4 separate regions of the Homo sapiens genome follow, and all the other regions are reported to be linked to region 2. Evidence: microRNA targets listed by miRTarBase, many of them from high-throughput screens and not tested one by one. Region 2 holds a microRNA gene; each other region holds the end of a gene's coding sequence.
The links. Region 2 holds the annotated microRNA hsa-miR-34a-5p (UGGCAGUGUCUUAGCUGGUUGU, at 3,967-3,988, shown strand). A microRNA usually pairs through its seed, bases 2 to 8, with sites in the 3' UTR of a target mRNA and lowers its output. Matches are read on the target gene's strand: a 7mer-m8 pairs with bases 2 to 8, a 7mer-A1 pairs with bases 2 to 7 and ends in A, and an 8mer does both.

Region 1: miRTarBase lists S100P as a target of hsa-miR-34a-5p. The part of its 3' UTR that is shown has no 7-base or 8-base seed match.
Region 3: miRTarBase lists MAGI1 as a target of hsa-miR-34a-5p. The part of its 3' UTR that is shown has no 7-base or 8-base seed match.
Region 4: the mRNA of FUT8 is a reported target of hsa-miR-34a-5p. Seed matches in the 3' UTR shown: 8mer at 1,742-1,749.

Annotation. Positions count from the first base shown.
Region 1 is chr4:6,695,642-6,702,935 of GRCh38, reverse strand. S100P (S100 calcium binding protein P) reads right to left here. Exons shown (of 2, transcript NM_005980.3): 2 at 5,766-6,043. The coding sequence ends at 5,894. Among named protein-coding and RNA genes, the nearest start is that of S100P, 5.4 kb to the right of the region's middle. RefSeq lists an enhancer at 6,090-6,852.
Region 2 is chr1:9,148,107-9,155,722 of GRCh38, reverse strand. MIR34A (microRNA 34a) reads left to right here and starts at 3,946; the gene lies at 3,946-4,055. MIR34AHG (MIR34A host gene) reads left to right here. Exons shown (of 2, transcript NR_132742.1): 2 at 3,888-7,616. RefSeq lists a silencer at 3,901-4,137.
Region 3 is chr3:65,350,024-65,357,639 of GRCh38, reverse strand. It overlaps MAGI1 (membrane associated guanylate kinase, WW and PDZ domain containing 1), which reads left to right. Exons shown (of 23, transcript NM_001033057.2): 23 at 508-4,114. The coding sequence ends at 1,262. Among named protein-coding and RNA genes, the nearest start is that of LINC02040, 180 kb to the right of the region's middle.
Region 4 is chr14:65,740,965-65,748,580 of GRCh38, forward strand. It overlaps FUT8 (fucosyltransferase 8), which reads left to right. Exons shown (of 11, transcript NM_001371533.1): 11 at 1,129-3,157. The coding sequence ends at 1,446. Among named protein-coding and RNA genes, the nearest start is that of MIR625, 270 kb to the left of the region's middle. RefSeq lists an enhancer at 4,340-5,301.

The DNA.
Region 1 (7,294 bases), not on the chromosome of region 2:
ATTTTCCATTACAAGAAACTAGGGCTGCTTGGAGAAATGGCCAGTTCCAGAGCTAGGGCAAGCAAAGTACGAAATGTGTCTAGAACATCTTGTGATGACAGAAGGCAAGGATGTGTTCAGAGAATGTTGAGAACATGTCAGAGGGTAATAGAAGCCAGCTGAAATGGGCTCCCATTGATCAGATCAGGGACAATGTGAGCATCAGAACAGATAATGCTAGTAACAGGTTACAACCCACTGAATAATATGGGTAACCAGGAGTTCACAAATGTGAATACATGAATAAATTAAATGCTTGATGAGGAACAGAATATATACATAGTTTCAAAATTCCTCTCTAAAAATACTTATTAAAAAGTGGCCAGGCCTGGTGGCTTACACCTGTAATCCTAGCACTGTGGGAGGCTGAGGCAGACAGATCACTTGAGGTCAGGAGTTGGAGACCAGCCTGGCCAACATAGTGAAACCCCATCTCTACTAAAAATACAAAAATTAGCCGGGCATGGTGGTGGATGCCTGTAATCCCAGCTACCCAGGAGGCTGAGGCAGGAGAATCGCTTGAACCTGGGAGGCGGAGGTTGCAGTGAGCTGAGATCACGCCAATGCACTCCAGTTTGGCAACAGAGTGAGACTCCATCGCAAAAAAAAAAAAAAAGACATAGAACAATTGGCAAACTTGAATGAGGGCTTAAGATTCAATGGTAGTGATGTATCAGTGTTAATTTTCTCACTTTGATGGTGGCATTGTGGTTATTAGGAGAATCTTCTGTGGAGGATTCTCTCCACTAATGCATTGAGGGGTGGTGCATCAGCTTATTCTTAAATCATTCAGAAAAATAGTTATTTGTACTGTACTTCTAACTTTTCCGTAAGTTTGTTATTTCTGTACGTTTCAAATTTTAATTCAGAATTGTTGGCCAGGCGTGGTGGCCCACACCTGTAATCCCAGCGGTTTGGGAGGCTGAGGCAGGCGGATAGCCTGAGCTCAGGAGTTGAGTTCGAGACCACCCTGGGCAACATGGTGAAACCCGTCTCTACTAAAATACAAAAAATTAGCAGGGTGTGCTGGCGGGCACCTGTAGTCCCAGCTACTCTGGAGGCTGAGGCAGGAGAATCGTTTGAACCTGGAGGTAGAGGTTGCGGTGAGCCGAGATTGCGCCACTGCACACCAGCTTGGGCTGCAGAGTGAGATTCGGTCTCAAAAAAAAAGAAAAAAAGAATTGTGCTTGTTGAGCAGTTAGGTAGGCCATGGCAATCCCAGCACCCAAACATCTGACATTCTGGAGGGGTGGAAATGCGCTGGCTAGGTAACCGAGGGAGCTTAGCCCGAGGAGCAATTCTGCAAAGCAGCTGCAGGGGGCGCTTGCGAGAGCCCAAGAGCCAGGAGAGCCTCAGGTGGCTGCCGCTCCTACAGGAAAGCATCACAAAGGAGACTGGCTGCCTATTGGTTTCCAAGCAGGGCAGTGGAGAAACACTTGGTTAAATGTTTTGTTTAAAAAAGAATTATAGGCCGGGCGCGGTGGCTCACGCCGGTAATCCCAGCACTTTGGGAGGCTGAGGCGGGCGGATCAGCTGAGGTCAGGGGTTTGAGACAAGCCTGGCCAATATGGTGAAACTCCGTCTCTACTAAAAATACTAAAATTAGCCGGGTGTGGTGGCGGGCGCCTGTAATCCCAGCTACTCGGGAGGCTGAGGCAGGAGAATCACTTGAACCCGGGAGGCAGAGGTTGCAGTGAGCCGAGATCCCGCCATTGCACTGCAGCCTGGGCGAAGGAGCGAGACTCCGTCTCAAAATAATAATAATAATAATAATAATAATAATAATAATAATAATAATAAATAAAAATTCTGGCAGTAACCCAACTGTCCATCAGCAGATGAATTAGCAAGATGAATTAGCAATTAGCAAGTTTGGTGTATACACGTAGTGGACTATTCAGCCTTATAAAGGAAGAAATTCTGACACATGTTACAACACGGATGAACGTTGAGGACATGATTCTGAGTGAAATAAGCCTGTCCCAAAAGGACAAATCCTGTGTGATTGCAGTCATATGACGTTCCTAGAGTCAAATTCATAGAAACAAAGTGGAATCGTCAGGACCAGCGGCCAGAGAAGGAGAGGGAGAGTGAGGGTTTAGTGGGGATAGAGTTGTGGTTTTACAAGATGGAAAGAGTTCTGGAGACTGACCTGCACCACAACGTGAGTATACCTAACACTGCCGAACTGTACACTTGGAAATGGTTAGGATGGTACATTTTATGTTGACACCACAATAAAAAATTACCCTTTGATCCAGTCATCCTAGGTAAAAAATGGAATTTGATTTTGAGAAATTATCTGAGCTTAAGACAAAGCTTTGGCCACGCACAGTGGCTCACGCCTGTGATCCCAACACTTTTGAGGCTAAGGCAAGAGTGTTACTTGAGGCCAGGAGTTTGAGACCAGCCGGGGCAACATGGTAAGACCCCATCTTACAAAAAAAAAAAAAACCCCAAAAGACAAAGCTTTATACATGAAAATGTTAATTGTAGCATACTTTCTAAAAACAAAAATAGGAACATACATTCTACAAAAATATGAAGAACAGTATCTTTAACAATGAGCAAACGATGGTACCCTCATTCCAATAAATTCCTTGTAGCCATTAAAAAATACTGTTTAGGGGCTGGGTGCACTGATTCACACCTGTAATCCCAGCATTTGGGGAAGCTGAGGTGAGAAGATCGCTTGAGCTCAGGAGTACCAGATCAGCCTGGGCAACATAGTGAGATCCCTGTCTCCACAAAAAAATAAAAAACAATTAGCCAGGTGTGGTGGCACATGCCTGTAGTACTAGCTACTCAGGAGGCTAAGGTGGGGGGATCACTTGAGCCCAGGAGATCAAGACTGTAGTGAGCTGTGATCATGCCACTGCACTTGAGCCTGGGCAACAGAGTGAGACCCTGTCTCAAAAAAACAAAAAACAAAAAACAACAACAACAACAAACCCTACTGTTTGGACCTGGCTTTTGCTTCATGCAGAGTTGGTATAAACTCCGGAGAAGTGACTGTGGACTTTACCTCCAGGAACGAGGCATCTGCAGGCTGCTCAGAAGACCCTGAACAGAAATCAATGATGGAGCACCATGGGAGGCTGGTCTCCTGGGGCAGGGAATTGAATTCCAAACCAGACGTAATCTACCATTTGGTGCAGGGCAAGAAGCTAGGATGAAATGAATGAAAGATTGAGGAGAGATGAAAGAAAGATTGAGGAGGGATGGGCCCTGTTGTCTCTATAAGGAGAGGTCAGGAATTACCAAGACCTGTCAGAGATAACCCAGGAAGGACACCCAGAGGAAGTGGCACGCTGTTGTTTTCCTGCTCCAGTAGTCTGGGTTTTTAGTCACAAAGCACAGAAATTCAGCCTAGGTGATTGATTTACAAAAGACTTGTCTCCTTCAAGAGTCCTGGAGGACGAGGTTCATAGCTACGTAGCCAGAAACCTCTCATATGGCGCTGCTGCAAAACCCATAAGAGGTTTTTCAGGTCTCTGCCTGTTTGTGTCAATTGTCCGATTGCAAGTCTGGGGTGAGAATAAAGTCTGGGAGAGCCCAGGTCAGGTGCCTGCACCCCAGCTATGACAGAGGCTGGGGAGTGAGGGCTCTGCCTCCCCCCAGAACTGATAAGCTGGGTGGTTTGTCATTTATAGGACGGTAACTAATTTGTTAAACAGCAAGAAAAAAGAAAAACAGGCTGAGCATGTGGCTCACGCCTCTAACATCTACACTTTGGGAGGCTGAGTTGGGAGGATCATTTGAGCCCAGGAGTTCAAGACCAACCTGGGCAATATAGCAAAACCCCGTCTCTACAAAAAATTAGCCAGCCGCGATGGTGCGTTCTTGTGGTCCCAGCTACTTGGGAGGCTGAGGCAGGAAGATTGCTTCAGCCCAGGAGTTTAAGATTGCAGTGAGCCTCGAGACCATCCTGGCTAAAATGGTGAAACCCTGTCTCTACTAAAAATTACAAAAAATTAGCCAGGCTTGGTAGCAGGCACCTGTAGTCCCAGCTACTCGGGAGGCTGAGGCAGGAGAATGGCGTGAACCCGGGAGGTGGAGCTTGCAGTGAGCTGAGATCACACCACTGCACTCCAGCCTGGCCGACAGAGCAAGACTCCGTCTCAAAAAAAAAAAAAAGATTGCAGTGAGCCACGATAGCACCACTGCATTCCAGACTGGGTGACAGGGCAAGGCCGTCTCTCAAAGGAAAAAAGAAACAAAGATTTCCATTCTGGCAGTCCACCCCTTTTGTTTCCCCCATTATTAACTTTACTTCTCCCTCATTATTAGTTTTTACTTTATTTAAATGTGTGTATCTGCTCCCATCTAACCTAACACGACTCTCTCTCTAGCAAAAATATTTGCAATCTGCAGTCCCTTCCCCAAAGAGGGATCCACCCAAGCCTCGTATTGTTGTGTCCACCTCCAAGTTCAGGATCTTTTGGTGATAGATCTTCTCTAGTGAAAATGTCTTCAAACATAGCAAGAGGCTTTAAATACTGGGTATCCAAAAAATGATAGGGGTCCTAAAACCAGATCCAGTTACCTACCTATCATCCAAGACCTCGCTTGAGTCCTTTTGGGTGCTCCCAACATTAGTGTCGTAAAACTAAATACAGGTGATGTGAGCAGTTGTTCACTGATGATTCTAATGCTCTCTTGGAATTCATTGTTTCTCTGTTATGGTGTTTCATAGTCTTTGTGGCAAAAATAGCATTGCATCATTAAAAGTATGTTACTGTCTGGGCGTGGTGGCTGAAGCCTGTAATCCCAGCACTTTGGGAGGCCGAGGTGGGTGGATCACGAGCTCAGGAGATCGAGACCATCCTGGCTAACACGGTGAAACCCTGTCTCTACTAAAAATACAAAAAATTAGCCGGGCGTGGTGGTGGGCACCTGTAGTCCCAGCTACTCAGGAGGTTGAGGCAGGAGAATGGCGTGAACCTGGGAGGCGGAGCTGGCAGTGAGCCAAGATCGCACCATTGCACTCCAGCCTGGGCAACACAGTGAGACTCCGTCTCAAAAAAAAAAAAAAAGAAAAAAAGATATGTTACTTTGCGAGGCGCAGTGGCTCACACCTGTAATCCCAGCACTTTGGGAGGTTGAGGTGGGCAGATCACCTGAAATCAGGAGTTCGAGACCAGCCTGGCCAACATGGTGACACCCCGTCTCTACTAAAAATACAAAAAGTAGCCAGGTGTGGTTTTGCGGGTGCCTGCAGTCCCAGGTACTCGGGAGGCTGAGGCAGGAGAATCACTTGAACCCAAGAGGCGGAGGTTGCAGTGAGCTGAGATGGCGCCATTGCATTCCAGCCTGGGTGACAAGAGCGAGACTCCGTCTCAAAAATAAATAAATATTAGAAGTATGTTACTTGAAGAAAACATGCTGTTTGGAGAGATGGAGGGGCCCAGGTTCAATGAGTGGCTACGTGACCGACTAAATGAATTACGAAGTAGATGAATAAATACATGGATGTGTGTACCCGAGCCTCCCTTGGGTCCAGGACATGGTGGCATTCACACGGCCAAAGGTGGGACTGTGTCTCAGTGGGCACTCAGAAGATGGCCAACAAATGGATTTTTATCGACTGCCTTGTCTTCTTCATCTGTCTCACCACTGCAGGCAGGCAATGAGTAATGAAATGACAAGTTTAATTAGTGAATTCTGTTTTGTGGGGAGAGGACACTGAGGTTTTAAGGAAATAACCAGTTTCTCTGAGACCAGGATCATTTCATAAGCATTTATTAATCAGAGGTACATGAGCAGGCTCAGCCTAGGGGAATAATTGCCAACAAACACTTTTGGGAAGCCTGGGACCATGGCTCTGCCAGGAATCTGTGACATCTCCAGGGCATCATTTGAGTCCTGCCTTCTCAAAGTACTTGTGACAGGCAGACGTGATTGCAGCCACGAACACTATGAACTCACTGAAGTCCACCTGGGCATCTCCATTGGCGTCCAGGTCCTTGAGCAATTTATCCACGGCATCCTTGTCTTTTCCACTCTAGAGGAGAGAGAGGCTCAAGGTCAGCAGTGAGGGTGCCTGTGCAGGGCCTCAGCCTCCACCAAGCACTGCTGCTGGGCAGGAGCAGGGCACCCACATCTGCGTCACCTTTGCTGTCAGGGCCAGGGCCAGCTGTGCATAGCAGACACATGGCATTCCTGGCCTTAAGAACTTGTGAGCTGCCTTCAGCTATCTGGCATGACATGAACTAACTTGTAATGTTTTTAGAGCGAATTGGAATTGTGCTCTGCGAGAGGGAGTTTCATTTTGAGTTTTTGCCGGGGGTTGTCTTTGGATTTGTAAAGTGCTTTACAGTGATGGTTGTTCTCAGGAAATGCATCCAGTCTTTGCTCTATTTTTTGTGCACTGCTAACTTCATGGGCCTCCCATCTCGTGCTGGCACTGAACTAGCTGCTTACACAAACAGGAACTCCTCAACACCACCAGACACGGCAGAGGCATCGCCCTGTTACAGATGAAGATGATAAGGCCCAGAGGGCCCAAGGGACCTGCCCTGAAGTCACACAGGGAGCCGGGGAAAGCCAGGGTTGAGCCCCAGGTGTGGAGCGAGCATGGAGCAAGCACCCTGAGCCCTGTTCTTCCTCTCTGCTTGGGTCCCAAGCTCTCAGGTCTTCTTTGAGAAGGCCAGGCCGGCAGGGCTCTCAGAGCCTGCCCATGTGATAGCAAAGCGTTCTCACTGTGGGACCAAGCGGGACCAGGATGCAGATCTGAACAGCAGCAGCAGGGTGTGCTGATGACCCAGCCCTGGGCCAGAGAGCTGTGTGTCCAGGTGGAAAGAAACACAATTAAAATTGGTAGAAACATATCATCTGACCAAGACACAACTGTGTGCATGAAGACCTTAGTGACAGCATGGTTTGCAATAGCAAAAGTAAGGCAGGGAAGTACAAATTCAATAGCAAACAAATAGTGGTATGGCCATGTCACAATACCCTGCGGCCATTTCAAGTGATGTTTACAAAGTTTGTAGGCAGACAGTCACCTCGTATTTACAAAGCTCCGACTGTGCGGGGCGCTGGGTTGGGCACGGAGCAGATAGGGCCAGAAGGCCAGCCCAGCCCAGCCCTGCCCTCAGGCGGACATTGTTCTCTGACTCCGGCTTTGCTGGGCTTCAGCAGCCTCCGGAGGGAGGGCTGAGAAGGGCACCCAGGGCCTCCCCGAGGTGATTCTAATGTAACACATTAGCTGGACCCCCAGCTTTGCCATTGCTTCTCAAAGTGTGTTCCCAGG
Region 2 (7,616 bases):
CTGAGAGTCCAGGCCTCCTCTCTCTGACTGGAAAGACTGTCCTCAGAGTCCAGGCCTCCTCTCTCTGACTGGAAAGACTGTCCTCAGAGTCCAGGCCTCTTCCCTCTGACTGGAAAGATTGCCCTCAGAGTCCAGGCCTCTTCTCTCTGACTGGAAAGATTGTCCTCAGAGTCCAGGCCTCCTCTCTCTGACTGGAAAGACTGTCCTCAGAGTCCAGGCCTCTTCTCTCTGACTGGAAAGACTGCCCTCAGAGTCCAGGCCTCTTCTCTCTGACTGAAAAGATTGTCCTCAGAGTCCAGGACTCCTCCCTCTGACTGGAAAGATTGCCCTCAGAGTCCAGGCCTCTTCTCTCTGACTGAAAAGACTGTCCTCAGAGTCCAGGCCTCTTCTTTCTGACTGGAAAGACTGTCCTGAGAGTCCAGGCCTCCTCTCTCTGACTGGAAAGCCTGTCCTCAGAGTCCAGACCTCCTCTCTCTGACTGGAAAGATTGTCCTGAGAGTCCAGGCCTCCTCTCTCTGACTGGAAAGACTGTCCTCAGGGTCCAGGCCTCCTCTCTGTGACTGGAAAGACTGTCCTCAGAGTCCAGGCCTCCTCTCTCTGACTAGAGACTGTCCTCAGAGTTCAGGCCTCTTCTCTCTGATTGGAAAGATTGCCCTCAGAGTCCAGGCCTCTTCTCTCTGACTGGAAAGATTGTCCTCAGCGTCCAGGCCTCTTCTCTCTGACTGGAAAGATTGTCCTCAGAGTCCAGGCCTCCTCTCTCTGACTGGAAAGGCTGTCCCCAAGTGATTCTCCCCCCTTGGGCTCCCAAAGTGTTGGGATTACGCATGTGAGCCACCATCCAATTTTTTATTTTTATTTTTAGAGACAGGGTCTTGCTCTGTCACCCAGGCTAGAGCGCAGTGGCTCACTGCAGCCTCAATTCCTGGGCTCAAGTGATCCTCCCACCCTGGCCTCTTGAGTAGCTGGGACTACAGGCATGCACTACCACCACCACCTCCTCTGTCTAACCAGAAAAAATTGTCCCTGAAGTCCAGGCCTTCTCTCTCTGACTGGAAAGATTGTCCACAGAGTTCAGACCTCCTCTCTCTAACTAGAAAGATTGTCCCTAAAGTCAGAGCCTCCTCTTTCTGACTAGGAGGATTTTCTTCTCCATCTGAGGGTCCTGACTCAGGAGGAAGAGGAAGGGCCCCCTCCTGTCCTTCTGGTGCCTGGGGCAGCAGCCTTCATGGGTAGATGCCTTCACCCAGGTGGCTGTCTAGATTCAGAAAATGGAATTCTGTTTGGAAGTCTGGGACAGGGGCTGCTGAGCAGTGGAAAGTGCGTGTGGTTTGGCTCAGATGTCCCCGGGATCTTACTCTCTCTCTCTTCTGAACCATCTTTTCCTCTGGGACCGTTTCCGAGCCTGAGGATCGGGCTGGCTGGAAGACTTGGCAGTTGCACTTCACTGTGTTAGTGTTTGCCTGACACCCCTGCCATGCCCACCCCTGAAAACACACGGCCCTCCCTCTGGTGGCAGTGCTGGGGCTGAAGCCAGGAGCCACCATGAGGCCAGATTCCTGCCTCTTGCACCCCATCTCTGGATGGGCCAGCCCATCCCACACGCTTCTGCTGTGCTTACAAAGTTCAAGTGTGCTGTGGTCACTGTTTCCATGTGGCTATCTGTTTTCAGGATTCTGGGGTCCCCTGCCCCGTCCAGTCTTGGCTGGGAGTTGAGGGAGGGAGGAAGCTTTGAGTTTTTGCTTGTCTCTGCGCTGACCTGGGGACACAGCAACTGCAGGATGTACCTTTGGCATCATCCCAGAGCTGCCAAGTCTGAACTTCTAGGTTTGAACCTGGGAATCTGCATTTTACCAAAAGCTCCCCAGCCGATGCTTACACAGTGAAGCCGAGACCTGCCGCTCTAGCTGATGAGCATGCCCTGCTGGAATTTACCTTTGGGTTAAAATCTGACATATTAGGAGCTTTTTTTTTTTTTTTAAGACAGAGTCTCGCTCTGTCACCCAGGCTGGAGTGCACTGGTGTGATCTGCAACCTCTGCCTCCCAGGTTCAAGCAACTCTCCTGCCTCAGCCTCCCAGGTACCTGGAACTACAGGCACATGCCACCATGCCTAGCTAATTTTTGTATTTTTTTTTTTTTTTTGGTAGTAGAGATGGCGTTTCACCATGTTGACCAGGCTGATCTCGAACTCCTGATCTCAAGTGATCCACCCACCTCAGCCTCCCAAAGTACTGGGATTACAGGTGTGAGCCACCACGCCCGGCCTAAGAGCATTTTTCCCACACTAAAAGATAACACAGTCCAGCTGGCTTGCTTTTTAACCAGAGCATTACAGGGTCACCTGTTTGGAGGAGGAGGACTGAGGTCAGAGCAGGCTCCTGTCAACTCCAACGGGACATTTCACAGTGGCCACAACAGGCTGACCTCTGTGTCCTGTGTCCTGCTGACTGTGTGTGGAGGCCTCAGAGGGGCTCTTTCCCCCTTGCACAGAGAGAGACAGCACTGGCTCATGAGCCTGCTTTTTTCTGCACTACCTTACCTGGAACTCAAGTTTCTGGGACTTCCCATGCTGGGGTAGAGGTGACTTTGATCCTCCTGAAAACAGTCCTTCATGCCCCCACACCCACATGGAAGAGGAACTGTTCCGTGGTGGTCCGTATCCAAAGTCACTAGATCTTGGCCTGGCATAGTGGTTCATGCCTATAACCCCAGTATTTTGGGAGGCCGAGGCGGAAGGATCACTTGAGCCCAGGAGTTTGAGACCATCCTGGGCAACATGGCAAGAACCCATCTCTATAAAAACAACAACAACAAAACAACAAGAAGTCAGTAGATCTTAAAGCACTAGATCTTAAACCCTGTGATGGGCAATTTCCTTGTCAATTTAGCGAGGCTGTGATACCCATGATTCAACCAAACGCTTGCCTGGGTGCTACTGTGAGGTGCGTTGTACATGTGGTCAGCACTGATGATCACTGGCTGTAAGTCAAAGGTTCTCCTCTGCGAGGTGGGTGGGCCTCATGCAATCGGTTGAAAGGCCTCAAGAGCAGAACCGAGGTTTCCCTGAAGAAGAAGAAATCCTGCCTGGGGACTGCAGTGTCAGCTCCTCCGGGGAGCTTCCGGCCTGCTGGCCTGCCCTCTGGATTTCAGACTTGCCTAGCCAGCCCCCACAATCACGTAAGCCGATTCCTTGAAATAAACTTAATCTATATCTCCTTCTGGTTCTGATTCTCTGGCAGAACTCTGATCCTCTCCCTAAACGGTGCCCGGGACGGGGGAGGAGTTGGCGCTACTTCATTGCTTCCCTTTCACGCAGACATGCTGACTTTTCAACCACTGTCCTTTTCGAATTTTTTCTCTTCCAGGGAAGTGCTGACTCTTTTTCTCCTTGTCAATTAGTCCTTTTGGAATCTGTTACTGGTCTCAGCCTTCTCCTCCATCCTCTCTCTTTCATTATTTTTATTTTCATTTTGTAGAGACAGTTGCTGAAGGTGGTGGTCTGGCTATGTTAACCAGGCTGGTTTTGAACTTCTCGCCTCAAGTGATCCTCCTGTCTTGGCCTCCAAAATTGCTGGGATTACAGGTGTGAGCCATCACCCAATTTTTATTTTTAGAGACGGGGTCTCACCCTGTCACCCAGACTGGCGCAATCACAGCTCCCTGCAGCCTCAACCCCTGGGCTCAAGCGATCCTCCTGCCCTGGCCTCTCCAGTAGCTAGGACTACAGGCACGCATGTCACCATGCCTGGCTAATTTTTAAAATTTTTTTGTAGAGATGGAGTCTTGCTAGTTGCCTGGGCTGGTCTTGAACTCCTGGCCTGAAGCGATCCTCCCACCTCGGCCTCCTGCATCCTTTCTTTCCTCCCCACATTTCCTTCTTATCAACAGGTGCTGGGGAGAGGCAGGACAGGCCTGTCCCCCGAGTCCCCTCCGGATGCCGTGGACCGGCCAGCTGTGAGTGTTTCTTTGGCAGTGTCTTAGCTGGTTGTTGTGAGCAATAGTAAGGAAGCAATCAGCAAGTATACTGCCCTAGAAGTGCTGCACGTTGTGGGGCCCAAGAGGGAAGATGAAGCGAGAGATGCCCAGACCAGTGGGAGACGCCAGGACTTCGGAAGCTCTTCTGCGCCACGGTGGGTGGTGAGGGCGGCTGGGAAAGTGAGCTCCAGGGCCCCAGGAGCAGCCTGCTCGTGGGTGCGGAAGGAAAAAGGCACAGGGGCTTGGTGTGGGCGGCTTTTGGCTGGGAGAAGTTTGCACGTAGGGAGAATAGTAGCCAGTGTTTGCAGAGCACTTACTATGCAGGAAGGCCTGTCCTAAGTATTGTAAGTGTATTACATCATGTACAAGTGTCTGTGATTAACCCCGTCTTGCAGAGAAGGAAACAAAAGTACAAACAGAAAATGTAACTAAGCATGCAATTAATAAAAAGGGACCAGGTTTTGAACGCGAGCAATCTGGCTCAAGAATCTGCGCCCAACCACCGGCTCCTGTTCTTAGAGATGAACGTGGAGTCCTGGAGACTGCTCAACATTGTGACTTGACTGTGAGCGTACGCGCTCCCTGTCCCCAGGAGACAGATTTCCAGTGCAATCATAGAAAGTGCCTGTGTGGGCTTCGGGAGATGTGTCTGCCTTGGGGAGAATTTTCCTTTTCAGCTAGAGCCAGGCCCAGGATGTTGACGTCAGTGAGACGCTGGTGACGTTCTCTGCTCCAGTGGCTGATGAGAAAAGTTCCTCCAAGCCAGCTCAGTTGAGAAGAATTAAGTTCTCTGGGTCCCACTGGCTTCACCTACAGATGCCAACTTTGAGGCCAGTGAACTGTGAGGCCAGCTGGGCTGATTGCCATGGCAACAGGAATTGGACCAAAGTCACCGGAGGATGGAGAGGGAAGACACAGTGGTGGCTTCCCCAGGTCTTGGACCACAAGGCACAGCCGTGGCCTCCAGGAACCCTGAGATAACCCGTTAGTGGGTCCTGCACTCCAACAGAGCTCATGCAATCAGCCTCTGGTCCTCACCCTCCTCCCATTGGTGTCGTTGTGCTCTCTAACATTGACATTGAGCAGTGAGTGCTCCAGATCTTGTTCCACTGATTTTTTCCACTGTTCTCCAGTCTAGCACTTTCTGAAATTCATCCAAGCCTAAGAGGTGACGCCAAACGTAAGTGTCTTACACCTCGGACCCCATGGACTAAGACAAGCCTCTGGGGTCCATGTGGCACCAAGGATGGGGCCTTCTAGTACCTTTCACACAGGCCAGGGACAGCACCTGCTGCGACCCCCACCCCCAGCCTCTGCTGCTTCTCCCGTTGCCCTTCCAGCCACTGCCCTGGGCACCTCCCCTGCTCCCGCCTCCCTGCCTGGGCCCATCTTTCTTTGCACCTCACCAATTGCGGGGCTTCCTAGTGCTGGAGGGGAAGGGAGCCTGCTTCCATTCTCACCACTCTGAAAGAAGACCCTGCAGAGAGGTTTTCTGGAATTTGGAGCCTAACCTTGGCCTTGACACAGTCCAGATGAGAAGGCCGTCCCCCAGTTAAGCCAGCCCTCCCTCCCTCTCAATGCTGGAGAGGAAACCAGGCAGCTGGTTGCTTCAGCAAACCCCCTCCCTATGGGAATTGTCCTTTTCTTCCTCAAATAGACTGGAGTGCAGAGGACTTGCTTCAGAGAGAGCCCCTTTGTAACGCACATTGCACGGGCCGTGCCCCATGCCCACTCTGCCACAAACTCCCCTCAGCTGCCCAGCCCCGTGGAGCCAGGCGTGGGCTGAAGTGGGGCCAATGAAATGCCTGGAATGCCAGCCGCAGTGACAGGCCAGCACTCAGATGCCTCTCGGGAGTTCTGACCGAAGCAGCACTGAGGACTGCTTCAGAGCAGAAGTCTACGCCATTTTCCCCAGTTCTAGGCAGAAGTAAAGAATGTCTCTACCTTCTCCCAACCAGCAATTGATTCAGAGTCCTGAGCTTTTAAATTAAAGGGACCCCTCTGTTGCTTTATGCAGTAGCCAGCTTATTCATTTGAGTTCAGGTGAAATCATTTTCAAGTAACCTCTTCCTATCCAGCTTTACTTTTAGTTATGCTGACATAAAAACAATAAAAATTGTCCTCCTCAGAGTTCACCTGTAAAAGTTCCTGGATAATTAGTAAGGAAACAGAAAGAGCAGATAGTTGTTGCTTCAGATAAAAGTGATGTCTGGGTTGGGCACGGTGGCGCATGCCTGTAATCCCAGCACTTGGGGAGGCCCAGGTGGATGGATCCCTTGAGCTCAGGAGTTTCAGACCAGCCTGGGCAACATCTCTACAAAAAATACAAAAATTAGCCAGGCATAGTGGCAGGACTGTAGTCCCAGCTACTCAGGAGGCTGAGGTCAGGGGATGGCTTGAGCCCAGGAGGCACAGATTGAAGTGAGCTGAGATTGCGCCACTGTATTCCAGCCTAGGTGACAGAGCCAGACCCTGTCTCAAATTAAAAAAAACTCTTTGTGGTCATTTAATTTACTTCTGCATTCTTTTTTTTTTTTTTTTGAAATGGGCAGTGGTACCATCTCAGCTCACTGCAACCTCTGCCTTGGGGGTTCAAGTGATTCTCCTGCCTCAGCCTCCCGAGTAGCTGGGATTACAGGCACCCGCCACCACGCCCAGCTAATTTTTGTATTTTTAGTAGAGACGGGGCTTTGCCATGTTGACCAGGCTGGACTCAAACTCCTGACCTCAGGTGATCCGCCCACCTCGGCCTCCCAAAGCACTGGGATTACAGGAATGAGCCACTGCACTCGGCCTACTTCTGCATTCCTTAGAGTACATCCTAGCTAGGATATATTCACTTGTCTTTAGAGCTAACAGCAGAAGAAAGGTACCTAGATGCTTATCTAGCTCTTTATCTTTCTAGAAATTCTAGAAGATGAGAGGGGCAGTGGTGGCTCCAAGGGAGTGATTTTAGGATGGACTGGGACAGAGAGGGGCTGCTTACACATACTCACACAGAGGCCATTAATTTAGGGAGTTCAAGGTCCAGGAGGTTGACGGCATCTAGGCCTGTGGCAGAGTGCACTCCTGCTTTGGGGAATGTATGGGCAGCTTCTTGCCTGTAGTTGGAGGGTTAGAGAGAGGGATCAATAATTTCATGGTTGGACTTGAGTTTGGAGCGAGTGGAGTTAGATACAAATTCTATGTTTTTGGAGAAAGTATTTGATCTTCTTGGCTGTGAGGCAAAGCGAGGTTTAAAAATATTTTTCACTTAAAAATATATATATATGCATGTATATTTAATACTGTCTATGGATTGTGCCAATATCTATTTCATGGTTTTGATATTGTGTAGTTATACAAGGAGTTACCACTGAACGAAACTGGGGGAAGGGTACACAGAATCTCTGTACTTTTTTTGTTGTTGTTGCAATTTCCTGTAAATCTATGATTATTTTAAAATAAAAAAGTTAAAGCATACGTATTTACATTTGATTAAATGCAGTGTGATATCCTGGGTTGGATTTTGGAACAAAACAAGGCATGAGTGAAAAAACTGGTAAAATCCAAAAAAGCCTTTAGTTAAAAGTAATACCAGTGTTAATTTCTTAGTTTTGACAAATGTGCCATGGCTGTGTAAGATGCAAATGTTAGAGGAAA
Region 3 (7,616 bases), not on the chromosome of region 2:
CTGCTCCAGAAAGCTTCCCAGGTGCCCCTTCTTCACATCAATACCCTAAATTATTTTTAAGTAAATCAAAACAAGTATTCTTTAAAGCAAAGAATATTTTCTTGGGTGTGGGAGACGGGTGGGCACAGGGGAAAAGGGTTGGGGGGGTGGGAAAGGAAGAACAAGGGATAGCTACAGAGAGGAAATTTTGATGCCTCTAGACAGACTATTTGGATTGTGCCTTTAAAGACTCAAATCATGACTGATTTTTGTCAGTTCTTTAATGATCTATGTCTCGGGTATGGAGAACATTCAGTCAGCCAGACGCTGAAAGCCACAAGTACTAGTTTTTAACCCTAACTACGTGCAGTTATCCTTAAGTTAACAGATTCAGTTGGCTTTGAGTCTGACTGCTTTAACAGTTGTTTGCTTGTTGTGACTAATGAGGTCTCGAGTGTGGGTGGGAACGGGGACAGGAGCCGAGGGACCTTCGTACCCAACTGTTGCTCTCGTTTATTTTCCTGGCAGACCCCAGCAGCGACCGCCACGGCCCCGCCACCGGTCCACAAGGTGTTCCGGAAGTGAGGGCCGGGCCCGACCGCCGGCAGCATCCGTCATTGGAGTCCAGTTACCCACCCGATCTTCACAAATCATCACCACATGGGGAAAAGCGGGCACACGCAAGGGATCCGAAAGGCAGCAGAGAGTATAGCAGACAACCCAATGAACACCACACCTGGAATGGGACTTCGAGGAAACCCGACAGCGGGGCATGCCGACCCAAGGACCGGGCGCCGGAGGGACGGAGGGACGCGCAGGCCGAGCGCGCGGCAGCCGCCAACGGCCCCAAGAGGCGGTCCCCAGAGAAGCGGAGGGAGGGCACCCGCAGCGCCGACAACACTTTGGAGAGGAGGGAGAAGCACGAGAAGAGACGAGACGTCTCTCCGGAGCGGAGGCGAGAGCGGTCACCCACCCGCAGGAGAGACGGCTCCCCCAGCCGGCGGAGACGGTCTCTGGAGAGACTCCTGGAGCAGAGGAGGTCCCCCGAGCGCAGGAGAGGGGGCTCGCCCGAGCGCAGGGCCAAGTCCACCGACCGGAGGCGCGCACGCTCCCCCGAGCGCAGGAGAGAGCGGTCCCTGGACAAAAGGAACAGAGAGGACAGAGCCAGCCACCGAGAAAGGGAAGAGGCGAATCTGAAACAGGATGCCGGCAGAAGTTCCAGACATCCCCCGGAGCAGAGAAGGCGACCTTACAAAGAATGTAGCACCGACCTCAGTATCTGAGACGCTGAGTCACATTCCAACCTTTACCGTGTCAAAGGTTCTAAGAGGAAAGTCACAAACCTGAAATTATTTAGTTTCTTACCTAATGAAGCATCTGACACCTGATGATCCTATGAATAACAACAAACATTTTATGCATTTGAAATCTTATAAGAAAAAATATATATGAAAAGTATTGTGCCTGATGTATCATATTAAAGAAAGTATTTTTAAATGCATACTTTTTTGGAAATTATTTGCCAAATGCTGGCCCAAAGGGATATAAATTTTGTTTCTACGTAACCTGTAGAATCGTCAAGAATTGTTCCCGTTTTGGGGCAATCTTTTTCTCTCCTGGTTAAATGGGGCTGTTGATCATTTTCTCTACGTAAGGGAATTTATTGATTAAGTTTAATTAATTTGATATAGACTGTCATGTAGTGATGTAGTGCTATACTGTAGTCGGAAGTTTTTCTTAAAAGCAAAGAGCAAAAATGCAAAGTTTTATTTGTAAAAGCTGAGGACCCTTGGGGATGGATTAGGTTTGCCGATGATCCTAAAAGTAAGCAAACTGTATGACAAGACTACTATTGCAAATGAAGGATATTTATAGCTAAACTGCGCAGCACAAAGAAGTTTTATATTGTGAGTTATAGTTGGTTCAGAAAACAGTTTGTACTCTCCCTGGCCCAGGAAGGCACACAGACAAAAATGTCGGCCACTTTTACTCAAATACAGCCCAAGCACAGACAGTCAGGTTCGTGATCATCACCAACATCTGATAAAATCTCATTGAAGGCAATGCCATCACAGCTTTGCTCAATTACTACGAGGAAGAGACAACAAGCATCTTTCGTGTTGTCTCGTCTGATTGGAGGCTGAATAGTAGATGGAATGGGGGGACAGTGTGCCTGGTGTGAGGAAGACGTAAGATCCCCAATTTGGAAAGCATGCCCCCCTCCCTTTTAGTAGAAGCCCATGGTTGCCCTTTGCCAAACTGGGGAGGAGGCAATGAGCCTTGGTGGAAGGAACCTCTCTGTTGATATTTAAAGAAGTGAGGGCTGTGGGTATTCATTGTTAGAAATGCCAATTTCACTTTGAAACCATAGTCCAAGTCTCTAGGTTGGTAGAAGGGAAAGGAAGGAAGTGGTCCCAGTGATTCTAGGTCTGGTTGGGAAACTTCTGCCTCATGACTCTGTCCTTTGAGTCCTTTGGACAGCAGCACAAAACATAACAATTTTTATTTTTAAACAGACCCATTCTTTTTGATCCCACAGGAGCTGTGGTTGGGTCGGCCGTAGCCCCGGGATGTGGTTTAAGTGGATTACTGCCTAGCTGAGCCAAAATGTTTGCTTGTACCTGTTGGACCACTACAGCAAACCGCTGCTTACAGTGCATTGTGTATTTCTGTAGTACTGTTTTGCATTTTCCATAGAGACAGAAAACTTTGCAAGTCAATCACTGTTGTTCCCATGGTACTGTAAGAAAAAAAAAAAGGAAAAAGAAAAAAAAAAAGAAAACCAGCCAATCATTGCGTGTACAGAGCTAAAAATTGTAATTAATAGAGCCTGTTGGGAAAAAAAAGAAAACAACTGTTGCCTTTTTTTCTTGTATAAAAGAGAATTTATGACAAAATTTAGCTGTGAGGAATGTGATACGTGTTTATATTTCTGAATATGGAACAAATTGATTCATGGGGATATATTTTAATGTAAACTAAATCAGGTATGTAAAGTTGTTTTAAAATGGGAGACTATATAAGTAATTCTCTAAAGCTTTAGTTGGTTTGAATATCATCATTTCCTCCATGGTGAGCCTGCTTGTGAATTATTAAGCACTTGTTTGCATTCTCTGTTCTTCACTCATTTATTTCTTGCAGTGTGCTATGGACTTAATGCTCTTTCTGTATTGATGAAAAGCAGTATGTGGGCCAATCTTTTTATAAAACACTATGCATATATAAATATTACATTGTTCATAGCTTTATTTGACTTATGGGTTTATACATAACATTAGAATGAGTAGCTGTAGTTGTGTGGACATTTATAAAACAAGTTCCTTTCCTGGAACAGACACAATATACATTCTGTAGCTAAAAAGGAGGGAAAAGTCTGTGAATGCTATTTTTATTATTAAAGTTTTCCATACAAAGCATACATTGAGCTGTAGTAAGGCTGAGGAAGAGTACAACTGAATAATGATGTTCTTTTTCATCAAGTTCCTAAGAGCTGACTTGGAGATTTTATTCCCAGGGCTCCACTGCTAGGATTCTTCTCACTAGTTCTAACAAAATCTGTGATGTTAAATGACTGATGCTCTCAATTGTGATCCAGAGTTTTAAATAAATGAAATCAAGGTGGATTTTGGGAATATATCCTGAAGTTAACATCTTGATGTCCTTCTTGTTGTAAGATGATATTTGGCAATTTAAAATCTATGTGCTACCCACCTGGGCTTGTCTCAATCCGTGGACTTTTTGGTGTGGCAGTTTCACCTGAATTCCACACATCAGATTTGTTTGGAAATATTGTACTGTACAGGGACTATGCATTATGCAGAAAGATATAGTTTTCTTTGAACTGCTGTAACCTTAAATTGGAAACTGATTCTTGTGAGCCTACTTTCCTTAATCCCGCCGCCCCCCTCCCCCACTTAATGTAAATGTCTTGATGAGAGATAATGGATGAGTATTTTGTATGATGAAATCAAACGATTTAGGAATTTGTCTCCCTCCGTTACACAGTTGATGCCTGAAAGAATGTTGGGGGGGAGGACTCAACACCCTAATTGTATTTTTTAAGTTTCTTTTGTGAAAGATTTTTTAATGCATTTTTACTGTAAAAATACATGGAAATGTATGCATTCCACAACCACTATTGCTTCTGGATTGATATCTTCCTTGTCTCTATGTTGTCTCAAATGTATCAGGGTCAAGTAATCAATTGAGGGCCCCTGACTCCAACTTGATGAAATGCCGTTGTGTTGAAAGAGCAGGATCTATGCCATTGCAATAGCATAGTGCCTTGCTACTCAAAGTGTGGTCTGTGGACCAGCTGCCTCATCATCACTGAGGAGCTTGTTAGAAATGCAGATTCTCAGCCCTACTCCAGACCTACTGAGTCAGAATGTACAGTTAATAAGATCCTCAGCTATGCCTTATGCACATGAAAGTTTAAACAGCACAGCACAGTATAGCACAGAACCCTGATAATAAAACAAATCCTGCCAAGCTAAGAGCTTCATCACTTCTGGTGTGATTCTTGGGCACATTCCTTAACCTCCTCTGAAGCCTCCATTTCCTCATCTGTAAAAGGACATACTTCACAGAGCTAAGAATAGATACACATCTTTGGCAATCAGAAGAGTCCTCAGTAAATGACACGAACTTTTTTTTTTTTTTTAATTGAGGAAGATTTCTGCGTGGCAATGAGTACTCTACTCTTTTTGTTGTCCTGGTTTATTTTCCAATCAAAATAAATGAAAAAAACTTTTTTTTTTTTTTTTTTTTTTTTTGAGACAGGGTCTCACTCTGACGCCCAGGCTGGAGTGCAGTGGCATGATCGCAGCTCACTGCAGCCTCAACCTCCCAGGTTCAAGTGATCCTCCCTGCTCAACCTCCCGAGTAACTGGGACTGGAGGGGCATGCCACCATGCCCAAATAATTTTTGGTATTTTTATAGAAATGGGGTTTTGCCCTTTTGCCCAGGCCGGTCACAAATGCCTGGGCTCAAGCAATCTGCCCAACTCAGCCTCCCAAAGTGCTGGGATTACAGGCATGAGCCACCGTGCCTGTAAGAAAAAATTATTTTCTCACTCTATTAAAATGGGGAAGAAGGCCTTTTAATTATGAATAGTATAGTACATACTATTCAACAAAATACTACACTTAACCATTGCTGAGGAATATGAAACCAAAATGCTGTGCTGTGAAAACTGAGACAAAGTCATCTCTAAGTCTAACTTCAGGAGGTAGATGTGTGTGGAATTAGATATACTCCCAAGTCACACTAGATACGAAAGTTAACCATTCTCAAGTGACCTAACGTTCGTGGGGGTGGATCAGGTAGTGTTGAATAACTTTCCAGTTTCCTTCACACAGTTTTTGGTTGTTCCTTTTTATGACTTAGTGTTTGGGGTTTTCCTCCAGAACCTAATCTCCTGGGCGTTCAAAAGGCATTTTGTTGAATAGTAGGCCTTCCTCCAACCCATCTCCTTTGCTGTATTTTGCTTTGTCACCAGGATGGTAATTATGAACTCTGCTCACTTCCCTAGTATCTCCTTTATAAAAGATGGCATCTCAAAGTGGTCCCTGGCTTAACCAACAGTTGAAGCTGTTTGTAAAGCCCTTATGTCATGCAAGTTCTTTGCCTGCCATAAACAGCCACACCAAATGTGCAGAGACTCAATTATGCCGTCAGGATTTTTCCAGCTGGGGGCAATCCGAGACCACCTTTGGTGGCCTGCATTAATCATAAAAGGAAAAGCCCTTTCAAGTTCCTCCAAGCGATTTCTCCTTTGAGGCAACACCATCAGCATCGTGGATGTTTAGCACAGTGAGATCCAAGTGCTTTGGCAATACAAATCATTAGAAGCTTATGTGAAGGGAAATGCCCTCTCCAACACAATGATTTAGGGTATTTTTTGCAGGAGTGGATCTTCTGTGAAAATTGTTTGACTACTCCCTCCCACCCCTAAGTGATGTCTTTATGCATTGTGGTCATTGTCAGAGGCAAGAGGAGTGTGGCTTTACTTCATTAGTGTAGTTATTAGGTGTCCAATGGATCCAAAGCACAAGATCTCTTTGCAAGTACATGGATTTAAGCAAAGTAGTGATAACTGTTGAATTATACAGTAAATACTCAAGTATTGCATGCGACTGCTACCCTTGACTGCATCACCTTTCCACCTAACTGAAAAGTCTTTATTGTCATGTCTCTGGAGGGAATAAAGGCATGGTCTTCACAGCTGAGAGCTCTAAACACCACTCCATTAAGTGCTGTACTTTATATTTATCCCTCAGAGAATAAATTCTCTTTGGTCTCATAAGATTGTGGAATTGAAGGGAAAATATCTCAGAAAGGCTGTTCATTCCTGCATGTGTAATAGGCAAGGCTTGCTACTCTATTTCTCATTTCCTCAACACATTTATTGAAGATCAGCTCTGTGCCAGGTACATGGTGGGGGCTAGAAATGCCTGGTTCCTGGTCTCAAGTGCTCGTAGTTGGTGGGGAGAAGACAAATGCTTGCAAACTGCATACCAAGCAGAAGCACGGGGTCCTCTGATAGCAACTAATAGGAAATTTAGCCAGATTGAAGAAGGTTATAATTCAAGTGAGGCCAGAAGGAAGAGGAAGCTAATCAGTGAAAGAAGGAACAAAGTGCAGGCTGAGCAAAGGCCCAAGTGCAAGGGAGTGTGGTCTAGAAGGGAAGGGTTGCATTGTGAAGGGAATAAGGGTTGTGCCAGGCTGGACTTGTTCCAGATTGTAGACTTCAGAATAACAGAAGACCACTGAAGAGTTTTAACAGGGCCTCCGGCGAGCTGTGTGTGTGTTCGGGGAGGGAGAGGTGACCAGCTCAGGTTTAAGTTTGAGAAAGATGGCCTCACAGCACCATGGGAGAGCGGACTTGGAGAGAGGTGGAAAGAATCCAGTTAGCCACCGGGGCTGTCCAGGGCAGCAATTGTTACCACGAAAACCCCTCCTGTACCATGCAGTTCTCAAAGTTCAGAAGTCCCCAAGCCCATGTTTACCTTCCTCTTACTAAAAGAGTTCATTTTATTTCCAACCTAAATCCTTCAGCTTCTCTTCCCTATACCTTAATTAATACGTGCAGAACACTTTGTACCCAATTTCTTCTGTTAGGTAAGGTCCATCATTTACTATTCTACTGGGTTTTCTACAGGTTTACAAATTCCCACCTTACTAGCCTTTTTTTTTTTTCCAGATCCTTGTTTCAAACCTAATCTTATTTTCATTTTTTTTAAGTTGACCACATCTTTCTCAAGTTACAGAAGCCTGTCTATGTATTATCCAGTCTTTGCTAGCCATTCCCCATGTTTGAGTGTGAAGAAAGAAACCACTCAATCCTATGATACCCCATTTTTAAAAGCAGTTTTTATTTACAAAACGAATTCATATTTACAATACGAATGCATATTTACAAATGCATATTTACAATAAAAGATTCAAGCATTTCAGGAAAGTATAAAAAGTGACATTCTTCCTTACACCTGTCAATCCCAATCCACAGAAATAACTGTTATTAGCAGCTTGATTCGTGACATTTCTAGTCTTTCTGTGTGTGTGTGTGTGTGTGTGTGTGTGTGTATAACTGTATGGGTATATGTGTACGTATATATAGTTTTTATGAAAAAAT
Region 4 (7,616 bases), not on the chromosome of region 2:
GAGTAGCGTCATTTTAAATACATGCAAAACTATTGGTATAGTGACAATAAAGCATTAACTAAGATTACCATAACTGGAGATTTAGGAAAATTTCATCTGAGTTGCATTGTTCTCTTTTCACAATGTATAAATTGCTTAAATTGGGTGATAGTTTAGTTTAACTTTATTACTAAGCATTAACCTCAAGGATTGAAGCTCAGATTGTGGAATTTCACCTGCTATCCAGTGAGCAGAGAGGGTATTCTTTGGACATAGGGACCTTTTAAGTAGCCTTAAAACTATAGTAATCAGGGTGATGCATTTCCTCAAAGGCTTGCCCAGTTTATGTCATCCAAGCATGCCACTCTCTACACAGCACACTTAAAACTTTTTAGAACAGAAATTGCCGATGTGTTTTAGCTCACTTGCCAGTGCTTGTTGATTGTCAGTAATTACATGAATCTCTCTTGAAAACAGTTCTGGGAGCGGGGAGGGATAGCATTTGGAGATATACCTAATGTTAAATGACGAGTTACTGGGTGCAGCACACCAACATGGCACATGTATACATATGTAACTAACCTGCACGTTGTGCACGTGTACCCTAAAACTTAAAGTATAATTTAAAAAAAAAGAAAACAGTTCTGACACCAAGTTATAAATTAGCAGATGAGAATGTGTGATTGATTAACAGTGTATGAAGGAAAGGGACCATCAGCATTTATTTGTGTTAAGTTTTTTTATCCTAATCCTAAACTTCAAATTCTTTAAGGGCACAAACTATGTCTTACTCATTTTGGTATCATGAGTGCCTAGCTTGGACCACTGTGTATGTAGCTCTTAATAAATGTTTGTTAAAATTAACTAATTCATATTCTTAAATTCTTTTGTACTATATAGAGATAGAGAGATTTTAATTGTAATAATCTTTCGTGAGTTTTTCTTCTTTATTTGAAAAAGGATCCAGACACAGAGATGAAGAATGACTTGTACCATCTTCTGAGAACAAATGGACTGAAAGCTTGTGACTAGAATCCACTACTTTTCAACCTCTTACTCCTAGAGCCCATCCTTTTGGCCAAGGGCTTTTAGATTGCTGTGAAGGAGAGTGTTTATATACTAACAATTTCTTTTAAATTCTTTCCCAAGGTCTGTCGAGTTGCTTATGAAATTATGCAAACACTACATCCTGATGCCTCTGCAAACTTCCATTCTTTAGATGACATCTACTATTTTGGGGGCCAGAATGCCCACAATCAAATTGCCATTTATGCTCACCAACCCCGAACTGCAGATGAAATTCCCATGGAACCTGGAGATATCATTGGTGTGGCTGGAAATCATTGGGATGGCTATTCTAAAGGTGTCAACAGGAAATTGGGAAGGACGGGCCTATATCCCTCCTACAAAGTTCGAGAGAAGATAGAAACGGTCAAGTACCCCACATATCCTGAGGCTGAGAAATAAAGCTCAGATGGAAGAGATAAACGACCAAACTCAGTTCGACCAAACTCAGTTCAAACCATTTCAGCCAAACTGTAGATGAAGAGGGCTCTGATCTAACAAAATAAGGTTATATGAGTAGATACTCTCAGCACCAAGAGCAGCTGGGAACTGACATAGGCTTCAATTGGTGGAATTCCTCTTTAACAAGGGCTGCAATGCCCTCATACCCATGCACAGTACAATAATGTACTCACATATAACATGCAAACAGGTTGTTTTCTACTTTGCCCCTTTCAGTATGTCCCCATAAGACAAACACTGCCATATTGTGTAATTTAAGTGACACAGACATTTTGTGTGAGACTTAAAACATGGTGCCTATATCTGAGAGACCTGTGTGAACTATTGAGAAGATCGGAACAGCTCCTTACTCTGAGGAAGTTGATTCTTATTTGATGGTGGTATTGTGACCACTGAATTCACTCCAGTCAACAGATTCAGAATGAGAATGGACGTTTGGTTTTTTTTTGTTTTTGTTTTTGTTTTTTCCTTTATAAGGTTGTCTGTTTTTTTTTTTTTAAATAATTGCATCAGTTCATTGACCTCATCATTAATAAGTGAAGAATACATCAGAAAATAAAATATTCACTCTCCATTAGAAAATTTTGTAAAACAATGCCATGAACAAATTCTTTAGTACTCAATGTTTCTGGACATTCTCTTTGATAACAAAAAATAAATTTTAAAAAGGAATTTTGTAAAGTTTCTAGAATTTTATATCATTGGATGATATGTTGATCAGCCTTATGTGGAAGAACTGTGATAAAAAGAGGAGCTTTTTAGTTTTTCAGCTTATTTACTTTGTTTTTTTTCCTGTTTCTGATATAGTAACTAATTCTTAACTCAGAGACATTGGTCCATTTTAATACTGAAAACCAATTTTCATTGGTACACATTACAAAATTGCTAAGAACACTGTTTGGGAGCTTTCATTCTCATATTTTGGACATTGTTTTAATTGAGTGAAATAATCATAACTCCTTGCTCCCAGAGAAGCTATCACCTCCATTTCTAAAACCATTTCAGGTTTGTTTGGTAGTCTTTCTTAATGTATTTATTATCGCTTTTTGTGAGTAGGGTCCTGTTTTATCCAGGAACCAATTTCTGCCCTAGCCTATCATGCCCTGCTTTTGAGAGTACCAGGTATCTTTGGGATTGGGAAGCTGGCTGTTTCAGAAGTATATGTCTCATAGTGTGCAGAACTTGGTGACCAAGTGAGAAGCGGGACCAATGGGAGACTCACAATGGACTGAGTCTTGGGATTATCTTTTCCAAATTCTTCCATGTTAGAATCACTTCAGAAAATAAGACTTTGATGCTTTGTCTCTGAGCATCATTTTTCTCCTCATAAAAACACTTCCTTATTGTATGTAGCCTGCCTCCTACAGAGGCCTGGTAGGTGTTACTGCATTCTAAAAGAAAAATGTCATCTCTGTAGGAGCGACTATCAGGCCTAGTGTGAAATATTAGGGATCCTAGGCAGAAGAGCTATTAGTCCTGGCCTTCATATCTTCACCAAATGAAAATACTGTATATAAAATTTCACCACCAAACTTAACTAAATTCTTTTTCTCAAGTCAAGCCTCCCAAAGAAAAAAGAAATTAACTTCCTACAGTGTCAGCAAGCAATTTTCCATTTAGTTTTGGTACAAATAAAAGTCATTTGAAACAATCTCCAACTGAGCGGAGGTAATTTTGATTATGAGTTATTTTGCAACTCGCATCTCACATGTCATTGGAACATCAGTAACTGTGGATCTGATTTGTGCCCTTATAGAAGATCCAAAGGTAAATTAAGTTAGTCTCTTTTCCTTCTAAATTGACCGAGTTCCAGGGGTGAAAGGACCAAAGAACAGAGATACGAAGGAAATAAATTAAGGAGTATTTCCCAAAGGGAGTCTTCAACTGAAGAGTTAATTTTTGACATTTTATCATTTGGTTCTAGAATTTCTCCCTAATTCTTTATATTTCTCTACTGAGATTTTTTTATTCACTACATGCATGTTTTCATTGAACATAACTATGTAGTGAATAAAACTATGAACCTTGAACATAACAGATGAACATAACTATGAACATAACCGAACAAAACATTGAACATAACTATATAGTGAATAAAAAAATTATTTGTTCTCAGTAGAGAACACATAAATAAAAAAATTATGTGTTCTCAGTAGAGAACACATAACTATGTTCAATGAGTTTAAATTATGCTTTAAAATTCTTTTCTGGTAAATTTGACATCTGGATAATCTTAGAATTGGTCTCCATTGTTCCTCTTTACAGAATGGTCAGATTTTGGGGGGAGGTCCCTCATATATTGAGTGATTTAGATTGTGTCCTGAACATTGTAATGTTTATGTTGTAGATTCTGTTATATTGCTCTGAAAAGTGCTGTGATATATACATATACACACATAAATATACATATACACAAAAATATATATATACAACATTTGTGTATTACATTTGTGTGTATATATAGACACACAAATATATATATACAAATATATACACACACAAATATATATATATTGTGTATGTGTGTGTGTATATATATATATTGCTTGTGTTAGCAGGCATTTAACTTTATTGGACTCAAACTGTAAACTCTCTTGGGCAGCAGCTGAAAATCTCAATTCAGTTAGCTGGAGTCTATGCTGCACATAGTTCAGGGCTTAGCCAGAGAGATGGATAGAATTTATGCACAGAATTTGTGGTGCTTTTTCTTTGGCTCTCTTTCTTCTGAGATTTCCCCCCTCATTTTCCAGCAGCTGTGGTTGCTCTGATTCTTAGACCAGAAAAACTGCAGTTTTCTTTCAGCCCAAAAGCTGTACAATGGGAAACTCACCTTGTGCCATTCCCTTCTTTAAAATTTCAATCTCTTTTCAGAACTTGCCTGTTTTTATTGTCTCCTACCCTCATGTATTTTTTGTATTTTTTTGAGAGTTTATGGTTGTTATTCGTTGGAATATTGGTTCAGTGGGTGCTTACTCCACCATTAACTTAAAATGAAAAAACAGCAGGGGAGAGGACAGGTTTAGTCTTGTGAAACCCCTGTTGAGACTTTGGCCTCAATAGCCAAGTAGCCAGTAGCCTTACGTAAGAAGATGAAGAAGTAACCAAACTGTTAAACCTGCTCTTGTGAAGGGCTAATGAATACTGTTGACCACATCTTTCTAAATCGCCTTTGTAATCATCACATACATGATGGTGATTCATTCAATACATGTTGCCGTGTTGAGAAGGCTGACATTTTTCTTACCACTATTGTAATTTCTCCATAAAGCCCTGGTACTTAAAAAATCCTGCATGATTTTGAATTGAGTGGCCAGTGCTAGGTTAGGATTTGGGTCTTTTCCTTGTTGAAAGACCTATTTCTGAGAGACTTGCCTGGAATTAAATTATTATCGTGGGCTCATTGAATGTGGGTAACAAAATCCTGCTTATTAATGACAAAGCAATTACGAAAGATCTCACCAAGGCTTTCCTAGTTCTTCCACTCAAGTCTGATTTAGTGCTCAGCTGGGCGCTTAACGAATTCATGCCTGTTGTGAAAGCCCTAATCCAGGATTTCATTGTACCTAAATGAGTAAGAGACTAGTTCCTTTTCTGTTCAAGCTTTAGGTTTTTGTTGTTGTTGTTATATAGAGGCAATCCTGTTTACTGGGTTCCCTCTTTGTAAAGTTGAGAAGATGAACAGCCCCAGCTTCTAAGGGAGTTGAGAGTTAAAAGAGAAAAAAAAGCACATTTTAAAAGCTACCTCATACAATGATTATTGTCATTATTATTTGGTTCTGAGAGGATACAGTCACTGTGTATTCGGTGAGCAGGAAAAGTGTTGGGGTCTAAACGGTGCATCTAGAAGAGTCTCTTCTGCCTCAGTGAGAGCAAATCTCTCAGGGGAAAAAGACAAGTCTCCTTTGGCCATAGCCAATTGCCCGATACTTCATTTATGCTCTCAGGAGACTGTGCATTAGGTTCCATAGACCTGCACAGAATAGACATGTGGCTTGAGGATTGGTGAAATTGACAACTTGGCTACAATACCCTAATTTATGTCAGATACAGACTGTATGGAATTTTTAAAGTGTGCTGCTCAGAAAGGAGCACAAAAAATTTGCCTCTATACTTACTGGTTCCTAGCACCAGTCTCTCTCATGGACACATGGAAGAGCTGTTCCAGGATCACAGGCCTTGGAAAGTTTGGGCTTTGAGTTCCTGGCTAGTCTTACCTCCCTATTAATTTGCATAAGAATTTCTGGCCCAGTAAGGAGATAGAACATAGTGAGTGCAGGGACAGAAGACCTAGTTTTCAGTTTTGTTTTTCCTCCTCATAGTGCCTACAAGCACGTAATATCCCTGTATTTCGGGTTCTTTAGGGAAAAAGCAACAGTTCTCATTGAAGATCACTGACTGAAATTCAGAATATCTGGCTTCTGATTTTGATATTGTCATTAAATGGGGACAGGCCAAACGGTTTTCTCAGAACTTTGTTTTCTTCATAAGTGAAATGAATTGGTTGGATTTATTCAGGGTTTGCAAATTTGGTTGACTGGTTCAGTTTCACATGTCTCAAGGAAGTAGCTTCTACTCAGCCTCAGCTGATTGTTGTTCTAAGGACATAATGTGGACAGATATTTCTGTTTTTCCAGACAAGCAAAATGTGGATCTTTCTGTGCAAGATCTTCAGATTTTGAAGTATCAGCAACTAATTAAAAAATATGTAAAACACTAAGGAGTCCAAATAAATATCTGTGGCTCCTTTGGGCCCATGGCCCATTAGTTTATAACCTCTGGACTAGATTGGGAAAGCTCTTTTCTAACTTCAAGATTATATCTCTAGCTAAAAGTAGATCTACCATTCGATCCAGCAATCCCACTACTGGGTATCTGCCCAAAGGAAAAGAAGTCATTATATGAAAAACACACTTGTACACGTACGTTTATAGCAGTTCACAATTGCAAAGATGTGGAACCAACTTAAGTGCCCATCGACTAATGAGTGGATAAAGAAATTGTGGTATGTATACACCATGGAATATTACTTAGCCATTAAAAAGAACAAAATAATGTCTTTTGCAGCAACTTGGATGGAGCTGGAGGCCATTATTCTAAGTGAAGTAACACAGGAGTGGAAAACCAAAAACGATATAGTCTCACTTAATAGTGGGAGCTAAGTTATTCCCCTACATTGAAAGTTATTCCCCTACGGGGAATAACTTTCATCTCCTGATTCTTCAAGTTGTCGATTAGTATGGAAGGGCATACAGAGTGATATAATGGACTTTAGAGACTCAGAAAGAGGAGGGTGGGAGGGGAGTTGGGATAAAAAACTGCATATTAGGTACAATGTACACTACTTTGGTGATGAATCCACTAAAATCTCAGAATTCACCACTATATAATTCATCCATGTAACAATAAACCACTGGACCCTAAAAGCTATTGAGATAAAAATTAAAGCAAATTGATATGTGCGGTAAATATAAATTATGCATCAGGTTGGTTAGTATAAAAGTATAAAGAAAAAATGTAAAGTATATTTTGGGTACATTGGGTTAAATAACATTATTAAAATTACCCATTAAAATTTTTTTTAAATAAAACTAAGATTATATCTCTGGAAAGGATTGGTAAGAGAGTAACAGCTGCATAATGCTTTCAAGTTCAGATGCTGCACGTGTCCCAATTCCTCAGAAATACCTGCTTAGCTGGCTGTCATCCTGGGCTCAGAATAGCCCATTCGTAGCATATTCATAGCATATTCATGACAATATGCTATGAAGCTCGTAGGCTGGGCCCCTCAGACTTGGCCTTGAAGACCTCAAGTATGTAACAAGGGTTAGATAACTTCTAAGTTCTCTTCCAGCCCTAAATTTCTAAGAAGGTCATGGTAGAGCCTGAGATTGTAACAAGGTCATATGTGGTACCAGGGTGCACCTGCCTGGGTTAGGAACCTGGGTGGCTGGATCTGGTTGCAAGAGGAACAAGGGTCATTTTGTTAGAGCAGCTGACTATGTCTTTGCCTAGACCTCTGTTAAAATAGAGTAACTTAATTCCTGACTTAATTAACAGGCTGTTCAAACTCACCTGTTTATATTTAGAAACTCCTTTTGTTGTTGTTTTCT